Linked DNA regions of Homo sapiens: region 1 is linked to region 2. Evidence: fine-mapped expression QTL. A gene starts in region 2. The other region holds a variant in brackets. All regions are shown on one strand. Distances are from middle to middle. Region 1 overlaps COPA (coat protein complex I subunit alpha). Region 2 holds the start of DCAF8 (DDB1 and CUL4 associated factor 8).

What was found.
Region 1: its variant is fine-mapped to the expression of DCAF8 in whole blood (TOPMed, PIP above 0.99).

Annotation. Positions count from the first base shown.
Region 1 is chr1:160,311,052-160,319,373 of GRCh38, forward strand. COPA (coat protein complex I subunit alpha) reads right to left here. Exons shown (of 33, transcript NM_004371.4): 9 at 2,939-3,074; 10 at 2,034-2,116; 11 at 817-967. It also overlaps the pseudogene SUMO1P3. Among named protein-coding and RNA genes, the nearest start is that of COPA, 28 kb to the right of the region's middle. The variant C/G (reference allele first, on the strand shown) is at 4,285.
Region 2 is chr1:160,258,527-160,266,848 of GRCh38, forward strand. DCAF8 (DDB1 and CUL4 associated factor 8) reads right to left here and starts at 4,023. Exons shown (of 14, transcript NM_015726.4): 1 at 3,923-4,023; 2 at 2,759-2,832. DCAF8-DT (DCAF8 divergent transcript) reads left to right here and starts at 3,223. Exons shown (of 2, transcript NR_147618.1): 1 at 3,223-3,396; 2 at 3,875-4,252. It also overlaps the pseudogene RPSAP18. RefSeq lists enhancers at 2,958-3,906, 3,078-3,207, 3,838-4,107.

The DNA.
Region 1 (8,322 bases), 53 kb after region 2:
TCCTTGCCTCCCTCACTCATTGGGTTTAAACTGAGCGGGCTCATCTAATGGGGATTCCATCTGTGACAGAATACGAGATCCAAAATGTCATTTAAAAGAAGAGTCTTGGTTGGGTGCGGTGGCTCACGCCTGCAATCCCAGAACTTTGGGAGGCCGAGGTGGGCGGATCACAAGGTCAGGAGTTCGAGGCCAGCCTGACCAACACAGCGAAACCCCGTCTCTACTCAAAATACAAAATTAGCCAGGTGTGGTGGTGCACACCTGTAATCCCAGCTACTTGGGAGACTGAGGCAGGAGAATTGCTTGAACCCAGGAGGTGGAGGTTGCAGTGAGCTGAGGTTGCATCACTGCGCTCCAGCCTGGGTGACAGAGTGAGACTCCATCTCAAAAAAAAAAAATTTAAAAATAAATAAATAGGCTGGGCGCGGTGGCTCACGCCTGTAATCCCAGCACTTTGGGAGGCCAAGCCAGGCAGATCATGAGGTCAGGAGATTGAGACCATCCTGGCTAACATGGTGAAACCGTCTCTACTAAAAAATACAAAAAATTAGCCAGGCGTGGTGGCGGGCGCCTGTAGTCCCAGTACTTGGGAGGCTGAGGCAGGAGAATGGTGTGAACCCGGGAGGCGGAGCTTGCAGTGAGCCGAGATCGCGCCACTGCACTCCAGCCTGGGCGACAAAGCGAGACTCCGTCTCAAAAAAAAATTAAATAAATAAAATAAATAAATGAAAGAAAGAAAAGAAGAGTCTTGTTTGTGGGAGTTGTATCAGGGTGACAGATGAGAGGGTTTGGAGGAAAGAAACAAGTCCGATTTACCTCCGCAACTGCATCACAGCTACATCTTTGGAGCTGTTGAAATCCAGCTGTCGTAAGAATCGGTCCTTGACATAGTGTAGCATATTGCCATGAACAGCATAGGCTGGCCGTTCCCGTTCCAGCTTAAACACAATCATACCACCATCATGGCCTGGGGGACAGGGAGAGGAGGAGAAAAAATTAAGCTGTAGGCAAGAAAAAAACCTGGAAATTGGAGATACGTAAGGATGAAGATTATATCTGTAAGACAAGACACCTGAATGCATCCCTTATTTGCCTAAATTCTCACAATTCTTGGAATCTTTATTTAAATAATTCTCTGTGAATCCTTTCCTAATACTATTCACACTGCCACACTTAGTGTCACTATCCACACTGCCCTTTTCTGTGTTCCCCTAATGCTTTGTACAAACCTCCATTACAGTACTTATCATCCTGCACTGTAATCATTTAGGTCTATCACCCACATTGTAACATGAATTCCCTGAAGGCAGAAATTATAATTTCCATCCTTCCCCAGTCTCTAGCATATAAAAAGAGTATAAGAAGTATTTACTGAAAAAATGGATGTTAAAAACCCTTTGTGATTCTGTTTTTTAAAATGTTTTGCTCTTTCCCTACTAGCACCATCATCCCTTAGAAAACCCTTCCACTCTTGTTCTCCTACTGTCTGCTCTCCAAATATAAACCAGATCATGTCACTTTCCTGCCCAAAACCTTCCAATGGCTTTCCATGTATTCAGAATAAAATCTTAAGTTCTAACCATGGCATAGAAGGCAATACACGATCTGGCCAGACCTCACCTGTTACTCAGTCCCTTACTCACTGTGCTCCAACTGGCCTCTTTGGTGTTCCTTAGCATGTGATGGTGACATGCTAAGCACCTCTCACAACACAGTCTCTGCATTTGCTGTTCCCATTGCCTCATACCCTTTCACTTTTCTGAACCACCCAATATAAAGCAGCAGTCCCCATACTCATCTGTCTCTATCTGCCTTACCTTTAATTTTTCTTCAAAGCATTTTTCACCACACATCATTTTACGTACATATAAAGTGGAAGAAAAAAAGGAGAAAAGCTTCAACTAAGTGGCTCTGAGAGTCCTTCTTCTTCTTGTCATCCTACTATACATTTACTAGAGACAAAGCTAATAATCACTTTCAAGACTTATAAACTTTGAATTAAGCAAAGAAAAAAGAGAGAAAATGGCCCTTACCTGCTGCAAAGAGGTTAAGGTTAGGGTGAGCAGCTAGGACCCAGAAACGATCATGGTCTCTGCGGAAAGTCTGAACCCCAGTCCTAGAAAAGGTACACAAAAAGAAAAACATTAATTTCCTAGGAATCTTCAGCCCATCCTACACAAGAATATTAAATGGTAAGCCAGCAAGCTGATTAAAATGTAAATCAGGGAGAGTAAACTGCATATCCTAAGTAACAGTAGTCGTGATAAATTCTACCAAGGAACAAAAAGAGGAGACTTCAAAACTGACCATATTATTATGATATATAGATTTCCCCTTTTCAGCATAATTTTATGGCTTTCATTCTGCATTTTTTTTTTTTTGAGACGGAGTCTCGCTCTGTTGCCCAGGCTGGAGTGCAGTGGCGCGATCTCGGCTCACTGCAAGCTCCACCTCCCAGGTTCATGCCATTCTTCTGCCTCAGCCTCCTGAGTAGCTGGGACTACAGGCGCCCGCCACCACGCCCGGCTAATTTTTTGTATTTTTAGTAGAGACGGGGTTTCATTGTGTTAGCCAGGATGGTCTCAATCTCCTGACCTCGTGATCCACCCGCCTCAGCCTCCCAAGTGCTGGGATTACAGGCATGAGCCACCGCGCCCGGCCTCATTCCGCATTTCTTACTTCTCTAGCTACAGAACTGGGGAAAGGGGGAAGAAGAAAACATGTTTAAATTTAGAGGCAAAAAATAATATACATGGAGATTTCTATTTGATGGAAAATTTGTAAATGTTGACTGATCTCTAGGTCTCTTCAAATTTTCATAATATATGATTTGATTTGTCTACATGCTGAAGATGATGAGAGACATAAAGAAGTATTCCAATCTAATTTTAAAAGAGAGAGTAAGAGAAAGTTCACACAACACTGAGGACTACCTTACCGCTTAGACATATCCCAGACTCGAATACTCTTGTCCTCAGAATTGCTGAGGATCAACTCTTGGCGAGGGTGGAAGACGGCACAAGATACATTGTTGTAATGGCCCCGGCAGGTATCAACCTCCCATGCCTTTGATTCTGAAGGACAAAAAGAATTAGGTCATCACAATTCCCTACTACTATAACTTTAGGATTTGGAGATATGACATCCTCTTCATCAAGAACTAAGTACTATTACAGAATGCTAAATTGCCAACTTCTTTCTAATATGGCAATCTTCTTCATTTAAGTCTCTTAATCTTTACATGTCTTGGTTCTTTCATTCTGACCCTCTTATTGATTATAAAACCTCTTCTCTTGGCCAGACATGGTGGCTCACACCTGTAATCCCAGAACTTTGGGAGGCTAAGGTAGGGGGATCACTTGAGCCTAGGAGTTCGAGATCAGCCTGGGCAACATGGTAAAAAACCCCATCTCTACAAAAAATACAAAAATTAACTGGGTGTTGTGGCGCACGTTTGTAGTCCCAGCTACTCAGGAGGCTGAGGGGGAGGATCGCCCAAGCCCAAAAGGTCAAGACGGCAGTGAGCCGTGAATGCACCACCAAACTCCAGGCTGGGCAACAGAGCAAGACCCTGTCTCAAAAAAACAAACACCTCTTTTTCATCATTCTCCATCCCTTTATCCTGTTTTATCTGTCCTGATAACAACTGTCCTAGTTGGCCTTTCAATTTTTGTTATTTTTTCTTTTTTTCAGGGACCTGCCACTTTAGGAGTTGCCATTTTAGAACAAATATGAGCTCCTTCAGACAGGGGCCTTATCTGTTTTAGTCACCGCTGTATCTCCAGAGCCTTAAACAAAGTCTAGTACAAAGGAGGTACTCAATAAATATTTGTCAAATGAATGGATGAATTCTATGTTCATACTCCTCAAAATAAGGGTACCACCACAGGAAAAAAGGGAAAGAAGGAATACTTTCAGTTTCAAAACAGTGGTATAGAAGCAAGCTGGCTTCACTCCCCTCCACAGAAAACCCAAAACAAATATACAGTGCTGAGATTTTCATCAGCAACAACCCAGAACTCAAATATGACAATGAGACAGTTCCTGGGGCCACAGAGAGATGAAAAAACTCTGAGCAGATGGTAAGAGCATCTGATTTCCACATCTGCAATGGCCCTCCCCCAACTCATGGTTTCTACACTGGAAAAAGTGAGACTGAGGAGGTCAACTACCTTCCCCATCTTCCTGGGTGCCCTGGCAGGAGATCTAACCTTGACTTAACCCATGGGAAGCATCACGACTGCCTGAAAGGGGAAATATCCCTGAGGACAGGCAGAGAGAAAG[C/G]GGGGAGGCAAGACTATCACACCCAGCCCCAGAAACTCTGCTCTGTTACTTGGCCAAAGGAGATGCCAAATCAGAGTGGCTGCTCAGCAGCACTGCATTGCAGGAAGTATATTCCACAGGTCTGCCCATACACGAACCTCTAGCCAGCCTTGACACACAGCTGGGATAATCCCTTTGGGACCTCCCCATTCAGGACAGACAATGCTCTGGTCATTTACTAAAGCCAAGGTGAACCCGGACTTAAGGTGTCACCTAAAGCCAAAGAGGAGGAAGTGACCTAGCAGTACAGATTTGCTAAGCAAATATATCCAATAAAAACCAAAGCAAGCCAAACAGAGAAAACTGGAATAAGTAACTAATCTTTCAATACAAAGACATAGGTGTATACCCAAAATAAACAATAGCAAACAGGGAACCATAACCTCCCCACAAGGACAAAGCAAAAATACAATGACTGACCCTAAAATGACAGCAATTTGTGATCTCTGACCAAGAATTAAAACTGGTAGTTTAAAGGAAACCCTGTTATCGCCAAGAGATGGCTGAAAAACAATTAAGAAATTTACCAGAGAAGTTTAACAAAGAGATTGAAACAATGAAAACAAATCAAACAGAAATCTTGAAACAGAAACACATTTGCTGAAATGAAGAGCTCATTAGAGACTCTGAATAGCAGACTGGACCAAGTGGAGGAAAAAAATCAGTGAGCTCGAAGACTGGCTGTTTGAAAAATACACAGTCAGGCTGGGCATGGTGGCTCACACCTATAATCCCAGCACTTTGGGAGGCCGAGGTGGGTGGATCACAAGGTCAGGAGTTCGAGACCAGCCTGGCCGACATAGTGAAACCCTGTTTCTACTAAAAATACCAAAATTAGCCAGACCTGGTGGTGGATGCCTGTAATACCAGCTACTTGGGAGGCTGAGGCAGGAGAATCACTTGAACCCGGGAGGTGGAGGTTGCAGTGAGCTGAGATTGTACCATTGCACTCCAGCCTGGGTGACAGAGCAAGACCCTGTCTTGAAAAAAAAAGAAGTCAGAGGAAAAAATAAAAAGAATGAAAAGGAACAAAGACTACCTACAAGACTACAAGATACAGAAAATTGCCTCAAAAGACCAAATTTAAGAACAATTGGCTGGCGTGGTGGCTCATGCCTGTAATCATAGCACTTTGGGAGGCTGAGGTGGGCGGATCATCTAAGGTCAGGAGTTTGCAACCACCCTAACCAACATGGAGAAACCCTGTCTCTACTAAAAATACAAAATTAGCCGGGTGTGGTGGTGCATGCCTATAATCCCAGCTACTCGGGAGGCTGAGGGAGGAGAATCACTTGAACTCGGGAGGCGGAGGTCATGGTGAGCTGAGATCGCACCATTGCACTCCAGCCTGGCCAACAAGAGCAAAATTCTGTCTCAAAAAAAAAAAAAAAGAATGATTGGTTTTCAAGAGGGAGCTAAGCAAGAGCAAGCGTAGAAAGCTTATTCAAAGAAATAATTACAGAAAATTTTCCAAAACTTGAGGAAGAAATATCCAGGTACAGGAAGGCCTGAGAACACCAAACAGGTCCAACCCAAGTAAGACTACCCTAAGGCATATAAAAGTCAAACTCTCAAAAGTCAAGGACAAAGAAAGGATCCTAAAATACACAACAGAAAAGAAGCAAAGAACACACAAAGGAGCTCCAATTTGTCTGGCAATAGATGTTTCAATGCAAACCATACAGGCCAAGAGAGAGAGGAATGACATTTTCCAAGTGCTCAAAGAAAAAACCTGACATCTAAGAATACTGTACCCAGCAAGATTATTTTATTTTCCAAATATGAAGGATAGTATTTCCCATACAAACAAAAGGTGAGAATTTACCACCACCAGATCCATCTTACAGTAAGTGTTAAAAGTAGTTCTTCGATCTGAAAGAAAAAAACACTAATGTGGTAGCGGAAGTTACTGCAGCTGCGGTGTTGTGCTGTGGGGAAGGGAGAAGGATTTGTAAACCCCGGAGTGAGGTTCTGCTTACCCGAGGCCGCTGCTGTGCGGAGACCCCCGGGTGAAGCCACTGTCATCATGTCTGACCAGGAGGCAAAACCTTCAACTGAGGACTTGGGGGATAAGAAGGAAGGTGAATATATTAAACTCAAAGTCATTGGACAGGATAGCAGTGAGATTCACTTCAAAGTGAAAATGACAACACATCTCAAGAAACTCAAAGAATCATACTGTCAAAGACAGGGCGTTCCAATGAATTCATTCAGGTTTCTCTTTGAGGGTCAGAGAATTGCTGATAATCATACTCCAAAAGAACTGGGAATGGAGGAAGAAGATGTGATTGAAGTTTATCAGGAACAAATGGGGGGTCATTCAACAGTTTAGATATTCTTTTTATTTTTTTTCTTTTCCCTCAATCCTTTCTCATTTTTAAAAATAGTTCTTTTGTAATGTGGTGTTAAAAACGGAATTGAAAACTGGCACCCCATCTCTTTGAAACATCTGGTAATCTGAATTCTAGTGCTCATTATTCATTATTGTTTATTTTCATTGTGCTGATTTTTGGTGATCAAGCCTCAGTCCCCTTCATATTACCCTCTCCTTTTTAAAAATTACGTGTGCACAGAGAGCCCACCTTTTTCAGGACATTGCATTTTCAGGCTTGTGGTGATAAATAAGATTGACCAATGCAAGCGTTCATAATAACTTGCGAATTGGCCCTGATGTTCTAGCATGTGATTACTTCACTCCTGGACTGTGACTTTCAGTGGGAGATGGAAGTGTTTCAGAGAACTGAAACTGTGGAAAAATGACCTTTCCTTAACTTCAAGCTACTCTTAAATTTGAGGGTCTGGACCAAAAGAAGAGGAATATCGGGTTGAAGTCAAGATAACTGATAAGGAGAGAGTAATGACTAACTCCAAAGATGGCTTCATTGAAGAAAAGGCATTTTAAGATTTTTTAAAAATCTTGTCAGAAGATCCCAGAAAAGTTCTAATTTTCATTAGCAATTAATAAAGCTATACATGCAGAAATGAATACAACAGAACACTGCTCTTTTTGATTTTATTTGTACTTTTTGGCCTGGGATATGGGTTTTAAATGGACATTGTCTGTACCAGCTTCATTAAAATAAACAATATTTGTAAAAAAAAAAAAAAAAAAAAAAACAAAAAAAAAAAAAAAACACTAATGTGCAAAAAGAAAACTTTTCAAGATATAAAACCCAAGATGTAAAATTAAGTTCATAGACAAACCCAGAAGACTATATTACTATAATGGTGGTACACAATCCACTTATAACTTTACTATGAAGCCCAAAAGACAAATATATCAAAAGCAATAATAGCTATAGCAACATGTTAAAGAGATAGTCAAAAAGGCAGGAACAGAAATGGAGTTAAATGTATAATTTCTGAGTGTGTTTTAGCCTTTGTTTTTGTTCTTGTGTTTGTGATATAAAATAAGCTGTCATCTCTTTAAAATACCTTATTCTATCTATAAGATTTTTTTTTGTGAATCTCATGGTAATTACAGCACAAAAACTATTAATATATACTCACTAAAAATAAAAAGCATCAAATTAAGACATATTACCAAAGAAAATCACTTAACCACAAAAGAAGACAGTAAGAAAAGGAAGAGAGAAGCCTCAAAAAAAAACAAAACAAAACCAGAAAACAAGCAAAAAACAGCAGTAATAAGTCCTTGCTTATCAATAATATCACTGAATGTAAATGCTCTCAATTCTTCAATTAAAAGGCATAGAGTGGCTAAACGGATAAAGAGAGAAGACCTAACTATATGCTGCCCTCAAGAAACCCATTTACCTATACAGACACACATAGACTGAAAACGAAGGAGTGGGAGATATTCCATGAAACTGGAAACCAGAAAAGAGCAGGCGTAGCTATACTTACATGAGATAAAACAGACTACCAAACCTAAGATTGTAAAAAGAGACAAAGAAGGTCACTATATAATGATAAAGGGGTCAATTCAGCAAGAGGAAATAACAATTATAAGTATCTGTGCACCCAACACCAAAGCTC
Region 2 (8,322 bases):
CTGTAATCCCAGCACTTTGGGAGGCCAAGATGGGAGCATCACTTGAGCCGGGCAAGTAAGACCTCATCTCTTTAAAAAAACAAACAAACAAAAAAAAAACAACCAAAAATTAGCTAGGTATGGTGATATGCCCCTGCGGTCCCAGCTACTCAGCTGAGGTGGGAAGATCACTTGAGCCCAGGAGTTTGAGACCAGCCTAGGCAACAAAGTGAGACCCTATCTCTACAAAAATAAAAAAAACTTTAGAAAGATAAAAAGTTTACAGTGTGGTCCACAGACTAGAAATACTGATTTACTACATATAGATGTCACCTGGACATTCTTACCCAGCACATAAGGAAATAAACAGTCCAAGTTATCCCTCTTTCAAAGTATTTCCTTTTCTCCTCCCATCCTTTCCTTCACCCGACATGGATCTTCAGAGTTCATAAAAACACAAATGATACAAATGCAATCTCAACCCACCTCACCACCACCCTGGAGAATCCTTACCTTACAATGGAGAATTTAGACCCTGGATGATGGTAATGAAAAGTTCATCAAACCTAAAATGGTCACTGGTCTGAATGACACAGCTGCTTTCATTGTGATATTATCAGTACTTAATTTTCATGTGCCCTTGCCAAAAAGATACGAAAGAAAAGCCAACAAAAGGTTTAAAACTCTTCATCTGTGCTGTCATATTATTAAGACGGTCCAGCTGTGGAGCTGAAAAAAGAACTCTTTGGCCGGGCATGGTGGTTCACACCTGTAATCCTAGCACTTTGGGAGGCTGAGGCGGGCAGATCACAAGGTCAGGAGATTGAGACCACCCTGGCCAACATGGTGAAACCCCTCCTCTACTAAAAATACAAAAATTAGCTGGGCATGGTGGCGCATGCCTGTAATCCCAGCTACTCGGGAGGTTGAGGCAGGAGAATCGCTTGAACCAGGGAGTCGGAGGTTGCAGTGGGCTGAGATCGCGCCACAGCACCCCAGCCTGGTGACAGAGCAAGACTCGTCAAAAAACAAACAAACAAACAAAAAAAACCTCTTCATTCCTAACTCCCCAGCCCTGATTCACTTTTAAAAAAAGAGACCTTTTCCTCATACAGTTCTTTGATAATTTGTTGATGAGGATCACTGTATAGCCCAACAAGAAGGAAAAAATGTATTCCCTTCATGGCAAAAAAGGAAAGTATAAAGAATAGTTGCAGTAGAAGTAAACAACATTGCAGCAGAGAGGGAAAGAATTACAACACGGCCAACTCTGATCAGGTGTGCTAACAGAGAGTCCAAGATGAAGGAACCAATGAACAAAAAAATTTACTGATGTTTAAGAATACATTTTGAAATATACATACACCAATATCTAATATTCTCTGTCCTCTGGTTATGAACCCCCACCAAGGGTTTCATGTTCAGAAGACAACTCTAGGTGGGCACTTACAAAGGACACGTCTAAGCTGACCAATTAAAAATCAGTTGGGAAAATTAACCAGAAAAATGTGTTCTAAGGCAAAATGTAAAAGAAGCATAAATTAACGTATAACTTATTCAAAGCTGTATCAATGATGTGCAAAAAAAAAAAACCAAAAAACAACATTTTTTGAGTGTGTACCACGTGTTCTTAGATTACTAAGAGCTTTAAATAGATTCCCTATAATACTAACAATGACCCTGGGAGGTAAGTGGTATTATCACACTTTTAGAGTTGTGGAAATTAAGAGTCAGAGAAGTTTAAGTAACTTGCTCAAGGTCACATGGCTAAGAAATATTAGTCTAGTATTTAAACCTTAAAATTAAATTAAAAGTCTGTCCAATCTCTAAAGACTGTACTTTTCTCTTTATATCTTACTGATACACATATACACCATCACTAATAATTTTATTCCAGTCCATGATGAGCATTTTCTAATTCAGTCATCAGATGGAATAAAACTCACCAGTGTCACTCAATATTTTCCTACTACAAATCATAAAGATATTAGGAATTGGCCAGGCCTACCTTCCAGTCACTTAGCTTTTCTGTCACATGCCATGAGCCTCTAGTCTCTGCTACCAGAAACCTGAAAGCCTCACGAAAACTGCATTTATAAGTATGTTCTGACTCCCTTTTTGGCACCAACCCATGCTGCTGAATGCCCAGGATGTTTCTTCTGCTAACCAAGAATTCTTCAGACCAGCTACAAAAGAAAGAGCAGCCACTATTTTTTTTTTTTTTTTACAAAAAATTTCCCACTATATCCTAAAAAGTCGGAATTCTGAAATAGACTGGACTCAGACACCAACTAAAGGCAGCATCACTCATCACTCCCCAGCTTTTAGTCACAAGCAGCTAAATATTCTCCTCTAAATACCAAGGGATGACAACCCGAAGCTGTGAGAGGGGAAGAGACCTGATTTGACAACAGGATGAACAGAACTCAGGCAAACTAAGTTCCAGTTTTTAACAACGTAAAAAATATGATCGACACAAAGACAAAATACAAGGAAAATGAATAAAGAAGAAAAGAAGACATGGGGCAGGGGGCACACATTCACTTCTAGGCTTAAGTCATTTGGAGATACACAGCAATAGTTTAGGACAGAAAGACAAGAAGCCCACAGACAATTAAACTTGTAAAAGTAATTCAACCAGAGCTGGAACAAAGCCAAGAACAACACTCAAGCTCTTTGGGAAACTGGTAGGAATTTTATGACTTTAGTGGTCAGCAGTTGAGCATCAGCGCAGTCTGTCTTGAACTCAAGAATTTTAATGCCTCCAACTCCCACTCACCTTTCCTCCTTTTATCACTGAAGTAAGGCCAGGCTGAGCTCCTGAGAAAATAGGTCTGTAGATTCACTGAAGGACTGAGAAAAGTTAAAATTTACATGGCAAAGGTGTGTCTTCTACTGAACATAATAAAAATATTTATGAATACACTTTAGTATTTTTAGGCCTTCTCAAAACTACTTAAAAGCAGAATACTTTATCTAATTCTAATTACTGAACAAATAACCCACACACATATGGAAATAAAATGAACCAACATGAAGATTAGAAGCCAGGCAAGTAATCTCCCAGCTCCACTAAAACGTAAAGTCATTTAAAAGGATAACCTGAATCTTTTCAACGCTAAACCATAACCAAACAACCTCTCAACAAGAAGCCACAGAGCAGGGGGGGAAATCCCGGAGAGAATGTGATAGCGCTAGTGCCGGTTTGTTTACAGAGACTCCAGTAACAATCATGAGTCAGAAATTCAAGCCACCAGATGCTTTCCAACTAACAGGGACCAAATGGGACCGTTCTAAGATATCCTAAAAGATTTGGGAGTTAGAGGAGGTAAACTAAGATAATTATATTACAAAGGGTACAAGACCACAAGACAACAACCGACTCCGGAATTCTTGGACCTCCGCCTTCCGTACAAGGTGCTGGGCCTGGGAACTTGGGATGGGGGAGGGGGACACATTGCGCGGTGGCCCTGAGGTGACGGGGAGACGCAGGGCGAGCCGTGTCCCTCAATCTAAGGGGAGAAATAGGAGCGCACACATGGGTCACCCAACGAAGCAAGGCGTCCCTGTGAACTGTGCGGCTGGCTCTTGGGGGCAACACCAGGGCTGACCTGAGGAAAGGGCAACCAGTACTCCCAGCGATGACTTCGGGTCGGCGGAAGGAAAAGACCTGAGCGCTAAGAGCTTGGGATACGGGTCAGGCCCATCCTTAGGGGAAACCGGCTGGGAAGCGAGGGGGGGCGCAGGCCGAGCCGGAACGAGACACAGACCGGGTAGGTCAAGGGAGGGGGGGTGTCCGGCTGGGGCAGTTACAAGCACGGGAATCGGCGAGGCTCAGCAGCCCGCTTCCCGTCTTGGGTCATCCTTCTGCTAGCGGCTGCTCCGACTGTTCCAGGCCCAGCCGCCCCGTCCACTGCCACCACCAACGCCGCCGCCATCTTACACTGGCCAGCGGCCGCCACCACCACCGCCTCCGCTCTCTGCGCTTGCGCCTGCGCTGCCACGCTTTCCGGCCCCGTTTGCGACGATGTGCTCGAGAAGACTGAGGGAAGAGTGGTCGCGCGAGCTCACGGCTCGCAACCCTCCTCGAAGGACGCACAAGGGGCGGGGCTTAAGGCCAACGGAAAACAGAGCGAGAGGCGCCTGCGCATTACCGAAGAGGCAAAGTTGTTTTTGTAGTTTCTTCGGGCTTGCTTATCTTGTGATACTCTAAACAAATGCGAGTTAGGGGCTACCCAGAGTTGTGATAGAAATAAACTAAATTTCCAGCGGATTGGCAGGCCACTTCCTGGATGATGGCCAGTTTTGCCGTTTTTGAACACTGGAACGAGCAATGATTGCCACAAGGATTTCTTCTGAAAATCCCCGTTTCCTTTCAGGGCTTTGTTTCCTTAAGTGGTTTCTATACTATCGAGGCCCATTTTCCCCTGAGAGTCCCCATTTACGTATTTTTAAAGAAGGGGCTCAGTAGCTTGAGGTGTAGCTATTCCAGAAGCTCTTTTCTGAAGAGAGGTGGTGTGGGTAAAGGTTCCCAAGAGTGGGCCGGGTGATGTGGGGTGACTTTTGTACTCTGTTTCGTTATGACACCTACAGTAACCCTGCAGAGGATTACTCCCAGCTGCCAGGCTGGGGTATTTTTTTTTTTTTTCTTACCAGAAGCCCAGGGTGCAAAAATCTGACCCTTTCTCACCTCCCCTACCGCTACTCTCCTATTCCAAGTCATTACATATTACTTAAGACTACCGCAATAGAAACTTACCTCGTTTGTCTACTTCCATTATTGCCATTACAGTTAAACATAAGGCAGCCAGAGTGCTTTTTAAAAATGTAAGGTCTGGCCGGGCGCGGTGGCTCATGCCTGTAATCCTAGCACTTTGGGAGGCGGATGTGGGCGGATCACTTGAGGTCAGGAGTTCGAAACTCGTTTGAAACCAGGCCAACATGGTGAAACCCGTCTCTACGAAAAATACAAAAAAAAAAAAAAATTACCCGGCATGGTGGAGCGCGCCTGCAATCCCAGCTACTTGGGAGGCTGAGGCAGGAGAATTGCTTGAACCCGGAGGCGGAGGTTGCAGTGAGCTGAGATCGCACCACTGCACTCCAGGCTGGGCAATGGAATGAGACTCCGTCTCAAAAAAAAAGTAATGTCGTATTATTTCCCCAGTCCCCACCCTGCTCAAAACCTCCAATTCCCATCACATAATAAAAGTCAAAAGTATGATAGCCTTAGAGGCCATCAAAAAATGAATTGCCTCTAAGGAGGACCCTACATGATCTGATCTAGCACCTGCCTATTTATCTGATTCATCTCCTCCCACACTGCCTAGCTCTGCTCTAGCCTCACTAGCCTTACTGTCACTCCAGTCAAAGCATGTCCCAGCCCTAGGGTTTTTTTCCTTTTCTTGGAATGTCCATCTACTAGATATTTACTAGACTTGAGGTGTCTATTGAAATCCTACTTCCTAACACAGGCAGCTCTTGACTATTGTAACTAAAATGGAACCTCATGTCATCCTCCTCTATCCCCTTACTCTGCACTGTTTTTTTAATAACATTTTTTACCTATAACATTTAATCTAAAATTATGTTTGTGATCCAGCTATACTACTAGAATATAAATTCTTGAGGGCAAGGACTGTGTTTTTATCATCTTTGTAATCTCAACACCTAGAAGAGGGCTACAGCACAAAGTAGCTATTTAATGCCCCACCGTCCTATTCATTCTTTCATTCATTCAGTCAACAACTATTGAATTCCTGCTCTGGAAGGCCCTGTTCTATGTGCTGGGGCTGCAACAGTGAATAGAACCAAGATTCTTGCATTCATGGAACTTATTAGTGCAAGGGTTGGGAGCATAGGAGGAGGGGAGAGACACACAGATAATAAAGTTATAAAGAGTACTGTAAAGGAAAATAAAGCAGAATAAAAATGGGTTACCTGGATGGGTGTGCTCTTTTACATAGGGGATTCAGAGAAGGCCCCTCTGCTGAGGTGACATCTAAATAAAGGTTTGAAGTGAGACAATAAGCTATACATACTTGGGAAAGAATATTTCAAGCAGAAGAAACAACAAGGTAAAGACCCTGCAGCTTGAGTGTGCTTGGCAAGGAAGCCACTGTGGCAAAAGAATAGATAGGAACTTAGTTTGGAGAAACAAGATGGGAGCCAGATCACTTACGGACTTATGGACCAAAGAAAGGACTTTGAATTTTATCCTAAGAATGCTAGGAAGCCATGGAGGGTTTTGAGTAGAAGAGTGGCATGATCTGATTTATAATTGAAGATGTTCACTCTGGTTATTCTTTGAGAATTCCCTATAGGGAAGCCAAATAGAAGCTAAAAGACCAGTTAGGAAGCTATTGCAGAAGACCTGCAAAACTAGTGTTGCAATGAAATTGGTAGGATTCAGGATGTACTCTGAAAGTGGTGGAGAGGTGATGTGTTAATAGATTGAATGTGGGGTACAAGATAAAGACAAGAATAAAAAATCAGTAAAAAAGTACAAAAGTCAAAGTACAAAAATCAGTTTGATTTGAGTAACTGGATAAATAGTGATGTCGTTTACTGAGAGCGCATGTGAGGAGACAGGAGCAAGGTTTTTTTTGGCGGGGGGGAATGTCCAATTTTACTTCAAACATATTAAACTGGAGATCCCTATTAGATTTCCGAATGGAGCTACTGAGTAAACAATTGGAAATATGAACCTGGGGCTCATACAAGGGACAATGAGAGGTATAAATTAAGGATTAATTAAGTTATAAATGGCATACATAGCCATGGGGTGGAGAGAAATCAATGTGGAAGCAAAGAGAAGCAGTTTAAAGACTGAGACCTCTAATCCTGAGGCATTCCAACTAATAAAGGTCAGAGAGGAGGAACATACAGCAAAATTTATTTAAAAAGAGTAGCCAGGAAATAGGAAGAATAAAACTCAAAAGTGAGGGGTCTTATAAAACAAACCAAAAAAAAAAAGCTTCAAGAAGGGGCTATAATCTCCATCATTCCTGTCATAAAACAGGTTAAGATAACTGGAAATTGACCATCGGACTTGGAAAATGGAGGATTAGACCATGGCAAGTCATCTTAGTGGAAGCTATAGGGATAGAGGCCTCCCTTTCTATGATCTGCTTTTTGTACCCACTGTTTTGTGGACACCATGGTTATTACCACCAAATCAATAGCTATTACCACTGAATTCTCCCTTTCTTATTTGGGCTTTCCTATTGAATTTGAGGTTGTGATGATTATTATCCCTTGTGTATCCATCTTGTGACAGATACTCAATCCCACTGGTTTCCGTAACACTATATTCCACGGTTTTGTTTTTATCTCTCTAATCATTTATTTAATTAGCTTCTCTTCCCCTTCATTCTACATGTTCTTTCAGTGATTGTATCCATTCTCACATTTAAACTACTGTCCAGGGCCGGGCGCAGTGGGTCACGTCTGTAATTCCAGCACTTTGGAAGGCCAAGGTGGGCAGATTGTTTGAGCTCAGGACCAGCCTGGGCAACATGGCGAAACCTCATCTCTACAAAAAATACAAAAATTAGCAGGGAGTGGTGGTGTGCACCAGCTACTCAGGAGGCTGAGGTAGGAAGATCTCTTGAGCCTGGGAGGCAGAGGTTGCAGTGAACTGAGGTCACACCACTGCACTCCAGCCTGGATGACAGAGTGAGACCCTGTCTCCAAAAAAAAGAAAAACTACCATCCACGTAATGATGACTTCCAAGTCTTTTATTTTTATTTTTTATTTTTTTATTTTTTAGAAACTGATGTTTATTTTCCATCAACCATTTTTCCATGTTGCTTAAGAGCCCATGCAAGAACAGCTTAAGACCATTCAGTGGTTGCTCCTACCCATTCAGTGGCCTGAGCAGTGGGAGCTGCAGACCAGTATTCCGTGGCAGGCTGAGTGCTCCATTGTTCAGTAGGAACTGCTGAATAGGCACAGAGGGCACCTGTATACCTTCAAACCAGTCTGCAACCTCAGGCTGAGTAGCAGTGAACTCAGGAGCTGGAGCAGACCATTCACCCTGAAATTCCTCCTTGGTCACTGCCTTTTCAGCAGCAGCCTGCTCTTCTTTTTCAATCTCTTCAGGATCTCTGTAGAAGCAGAGATCAGGCATGACCTCCCATGGGTGTTCACGGGAAATGGTGCCACGCATGCACAGTACTTCCCGAGCCAGCATCCACCACATCAAACCCACTCAGTGAGCTCCCTTGTTGTTGCACGGGATGGCAATGTCCACATAGCGCAGAGGAGAATCTGTGTTACACAGAGCGATGGTAGGTAGATTAACATAAGATGCCTCTGTGAGAGGCTGATGGTCAGCCCCTGGG